2 separate regions of the Homo sapiens genome follow, and region 2 is linked to region 1. The links come from fine-mapping of genetic effects on gene expression. Tissue or cell type: whole blood. Region 1 holds a variant in brackets; the other region holds the start of a gene. All regions are shown on one strand. Distances are from middle to middle.

Region 1 (2,500 bases):
TCCTCATAGAATATTTATAGTCCAAATTCTGTCAACAGTGTAAGCAGTCATAAGATTTATAGATCTTTTAGTTAGATATTATTGATTTGGTTTTCCTTTACTTTCTAGCTCCTATGACTTCTAGAAGTACATCTACTTGGAGAATACCCAGCAGGAAGAGACGTAAGAGCAATTAAAAACTCTTGATGTAACAAATGTCTTTATTTGCTGCAAAAGCTACATTCACTTTTTATGTTATATCCTTTAAAATAAAAAATTAATTTGTTGGGATTTTAGATGATTTGCATTTTACATTTTCAATTAGATGAGTTGGGCTGGTATAAAACATAAGCCTCAAAATGTTCAAAGGCACAAGTGCAACATAAGTTTATTTTTCACTCACATAAATAGGATAAAGTAGTTCCTGAGTAGAGGGGGTGCCCACACAGTCATTCAGGGCCCAGCTGATGGGGGCTCTGACATCTTTAAGATGTTGCTTCCATGGTTCCCTTGGATAAGAAACTGAGATGGAAGCAGAAGTATGTGCAAACTAATAATGAAAGCCTAAGAAGCGTAAGAAACAACGTTGTCCTAGGATTGTATTCAGAAAAGATTGAACATTATGTATGTTCCTTTTATTTGATTATGCATGAATGAGATAGGAGAAAACGATGGAAGGATCCACACTGATCTGTTGACTTCACTAGCTGGGAGACCAGAGACAGAATAGGGTAGGAAAAGAGAGCTTTGGGGTTATATACATTTGCATTCATTGGTCTTCTTATGACAAGCATATATTGCTTTCTTAATTTGAAACCACCCAATGAAATGGATGATTTATAATAAATACATATTTTTCCCAAAGTTAAAAAAAAAAAAGAAGAAGAAACAATGTCATCCCCAGCCCCAGCCTCAGAGAGGGCTCCTGGAGCAATCTTGACCAACAGGTCAGATGATCAAAGCCAAAGGGTGGCCTAGTGGTGGGACTATTTCTCCCCCTCCTCCACAAGCTTCTCTTGTTCAGTTTTGCTTTTAAAGAATTCCCTGCTGATTCCTAAGACTCAGACTAAGACTGTTAAGGAATTTTATTTTTTTCTGCAGGTTTCAGCAGTAGTGACTTTTCAGACCTGAGTAATGGAGAAGAGCTTCAGGAAACCTGCAGCTCATCCCTAAGAAGAGGGTCAGGTAAAGAAGATTAGGATGCCAAGACTTGGCCTGCAGAATGTCAGGAATGTGAATTAAAAGCTGCTGTTTCCAGACGCTTTTTATTCTGAGCACCTTCACTACCTTGTATCCAGTTCATCTGGGAACTCCTTTTTGCATTTTAGAAAATGGAAAGAGGCAGGAAATTATGATAAACTCATGTTTAACAGAAAGAGTTTCACTGACTAAATGTATGTAATTATATTTTGTTGTTGTAGAAGAAATAAATAGCAAATTTGTGGTATTCTTTTTTTTAAACCTG[C/A]TCTCATTCCTATTAACACTAAGATCTTAGATTTTTATAGTGATAAATGGGTTGACATCATTGTCATTTGTAATTGTAAAGCCTCAAAAGACAACTGTTCCTACTATGTAATTATAGACAGAAATAAAAACTTCAGATCAAACACTCTCAAACGTTAGTATAGTTTTTGGTAGATGTCCTTCATCATGTAATTGGATTATATTGTGTTATTTCAATGTCTTTTGGCAAATAATATCTTATTTTGTCATCACAAAATTTTTAAGACATAGGCAGGCTAACTATACCCATTTTGGGGTGAGGAAATAGATGTACAGAAGTATTAGGGCCAAAAAACTAAAGAAACAATAGAAACTAGCAACCCAGGTGTCTCACGGTGGGTGACTGTTGTATGTAACAGACAGGAGGATAAGAGCTGTGTCATTTAAGTCAAAGTCCAAAGAAGATGCGCAAGGAACTCAGAATATTCACAGGAGACTATACCAGTGCCTGATGCAAGAAAGCTTATTTAACAACCACTGTGTGTGTGTGTGTGTGTACACATGCATATATTTGTTACATATAACATGTATACATACATAAACACACACATATGTGTGTGTATATATGTATATTGGTTAATACATATAATCTTTAGGGGGAGGGAAAAATAAAAATCGCAAACAGACAGAGATAATAGGAATGGAACCAGCTATATAATATACAAAATACCTAGAAAGACAGAAGCAAAATAGATAAACATAGAAATAAAGGAGAACAGAACATCATTGATGGAAACAGAAAAAGCAACACAGGAGACAAGATAAATCAAAGGGAGATGAGCTCACCGAATCAAAGAGACAGAGACAAAAATGTATAGCAGCAGGGCAATGGGCAGAAAAATGAGAAGTGAGAAGGAGAACGAAGTGTGGCCAGATAGAGTAGGGCTATGAGGTGTACTCATTGATATAGGTGTATTTTTTTGTCAGTCCGTTTAAGCTCTGAAAATAGTTCAGCATGACCACATTGAGACAGGTTCCCTGGTTTCCTCGTCACTGTCTATAGTCTATTATTTCCTTG
Region 2 (2,845 bases), 54 kb before region 1:
CTCCAACCTCATCTGATGAGAACATCTCCTTCCCTGCTGCCAGGAGGTGCCCCAGCATGGGCATGTCTGCCCGTGAAGTTCAACCCGTAAGGAATTCCCTGCCAGCCTGTGGCTCATTGGTCTGGAATTCCAGGTGCTGCTCTTAGTAGCCCCTAAGCACATCCAGGGAAAAGCTGGCACGTTTATGTCAGTGCCACTCAATGGCCTGAGCCTGCCTGCTGCCCAGAGGCAGCGAGAGGGGAGAACGTGAACCACACCAAAGCATACTGTGTGGTCCATGCCAGGACTTCTTGGGACCAATGTGCCTCATGGAGACTGGGATCAAAGGACAGCTGTGCCCAAAAGAGGCTCAGCTTACCAGCCCTTCAGCCCCATAAAGTCGGGGAGTCATGGGGGGTAGGAAGAATGAGAGAAAGAGAGAGAGACCTACAGGTGAGAGAAAGAGAGAGAGACCTACAGGTGTGCAGTGCCTGATAGAAACAGTGACCTTCGCCCACCGGCAAAGCTGTCCTCACCAATGTCCTGGTGCCTGGTCATTCACTCATGGGGAAAAGAAGAGCAGAAGTAGAGTGAGGGTAGAAAGCCCCTTCCCCCACATTTTCAAATGTACCTGGACAAGCATCCTTATTCACAGCTGGAAGAAGTTGGATTCAGTAGAATGCCATTTGGAAAACACCGTTCTGAAGTGCCATCCCCTCTGGCCCCTGAATCCTCACCAGCTTCCACCCTCTGCTCACCTTGGGCCCTGGATTCCAGCGCCCCCAGGCTCCCAGCTGCCTCCCTGTCTCTGCCCCATGGTCCGGCCTGGAGTTCTGGTCCCTGGTTGTGTCCTGTGGCCCCATTCTCATGCGCCCTTTGCTTCTGTTTCTTTACCTATGACTTTATACTGATGTAAAGCGAGTCTTCTCGGTCGCTTCTTGTTCTCTGAGGAATGATGAATCAGAATCTAAATGGAAAATCTGGGCAGAGATAGAACCTCCCGCGGGAGCCACCCTGCCCTTCCATGTCTAGATCATCTGGGTTCCAACCTCCATCCTCCTCCAATGAGAAGCTTTTGTTCTCTCAAGATTCCAGTGACTTCTCCGAAGCTTAGGTGTCTCTTCACCCCTGGCTGTTCCAAGGCGGCCCCATAGTCAAGATTCCTTAAACCCTTGCCCCTTAAAATGTTTGCCTTTCTTACCATGCTGGCTCCAGCCTCTGGTCCCAGGGGTGTGGAGAGTTCTCTCTTACTTCTGGCTGATTTCCAGGAAGGCTAAGCACACTCTCCCCAGGTTATAATGCTGAGCATTTTGGTTCTCTCCAGCCCTGGGTCCCAATGTCAGGACCTACCTTAGTCCAGTCCATGCTCTCCCATGGGCCTGAGAGAAGATTTGAGGTTTCTGGCTTTCCCTCCAACCCTCCAACTCCCACCCCAAGCCATGTCAGCAAGGGGAAGGGGCAAACATGGAGTTTCCCCCCCAACTCCCATGTAAACTATGCCCCCTCTTAGAGGGCAGAGCAGCTAAGGACAATTTTGTTTCAAGGACATTTTTTTTGGCTGTGTATTGCACAAACAAGTGGACACCCGGGAGCTGGCCCTGCTCGTCCCCTGGGCCCTCCTTCCCTGGTCCTGCAGGTCTTGCTGCTTGTCAGGCCTCTCCTCCAACCCTCTGCCACATTTCAGAAAAGCTGAGAATCCCTTGGAGTGAAAAAGGAGGAGAAACACAGTGTCCGTAGCCCAGAAGGAGGTTAAATACTTTCACTTCTCTTTTCCCCATTTGGGCGGAGCCCTTTCTGAGTCAGTCTGTCGGCCGACTTCCTGCTTGGGGCCTGGGCAGCCACACTGCACGCAGGCTGGGCCGACTGAGGGGCTCAGAGGCCAGGCTCTGAGGCCCACGCAGGGCCTAGGGTGGGAAGATGGCAGGTGGGGGCGGCGACCTGAGCACCAGGTGAGTCTTTATCTCCCTTCCTTTAACCTTTATCTCTGGCTATATTGCAGCTTTCATGCCTTTAGTTCAGTTTGTGCCTAAGGCTTCACTTTAATCCTTCTTTGCAAGAACATAGGTATGCGATGTTATATAATGAAATGAAAGACAAGTAATGAGGAAATCAGATTTTTTAAACAGGAGCAGGACAGCTGTTGGTGTGAGTTCAACTTGCCATAACACACGTGACTTTCTTGTTTTGGATTTACTGCTCAGCTGACCGGGACACTCTAAACATAGCAGTTGTTGGTGGCTGGGATTAACTATTTCCTCATGATCTGTGAACCCTTTCACCCCTCAGCCTTCCTCTACCTTCAAATATGTCATGTCAAAAAAGGTGCTTTAGAAAATAAACACTCCAGGGTAAACACCTGGCTTACTTTTAAACATCAGACGCTGTGGTCTCACCTGTCCTGGCAAGGGGCCTCTGCCGGCTGTTCCCATGACTGGCTCAGGGTCTGAGTTCTTATTCCATCAACCTTGATCAAAAGAAGGAAAGGGAAGAAAAAGGCCCAGGGTGACAAACGGCTAAATATTTTCATTTTTACCTCAATTTCCTGTCCCAAGATGGGGGATACCTCTGACCAGAAAAGAGAAGGAAATCCTAACTTTTCTCTAGTAGTGAGTTGAGAAATAACATTACTTAATCTTTTAAATTTTTTAATACAAAAGAAATACACTGTACATTATTGTTCATAAAATTTAAAACAGTGGAGAAGTATATTAAGGAAAAAGTCATCTTTGCCACTCAGCCATTCTTGTAGCTTCTCTTCCCAGTCCTGTGAAGAGTCTTGGGCACAGCTTTTCTTATATTTTTCTATGCATTTATATATCTAATGCATTTTTTGTAAATACGTAATTTATGTTCTTGATTTATAATA

What was found. PIP is the estimated chance that this variant, and not a neighbour inherited with it, causes the effect.
Region 2: SP100 starts here. The variant in region 1 is fine-mapped to the expression of SP100 in whole blood (INTERVAL, PIP above 0.99).

What each region holds. Positions count from the first base shown.
Region 1 is chr2:230,468,935-230,471,434 of GRCh38, forward strand. It overlaps SP100 (SP100 nuclear antigen), which reads left to right. Exons shown (of 29, transcript NM_001080391.2): 14 at 109-162; 15 at 1,081-1,164. All of the region lies in intron 3 of LOC101928816 (a long non-coding RNA gene), which reads right to left. Among named protein-coding and RNA genes, the nearest start is that of SP100, 54 kb to the left of the region's middle. The variant C/A (reference allele first, on the strand shown) is at 1,445.
Region 2 is chr2:230,414,401-230,417,245 of GRCh38, forward strand. SP100 (SP100 nuclear antigen) reads left to right here and starts at 1,801. Exons shown (of 29, transcript NM_001080391.2): 1 at 1,801-1,928. The coding sequence starts at 1,897. RefSeq lists an enhancer at 1,448-1,967.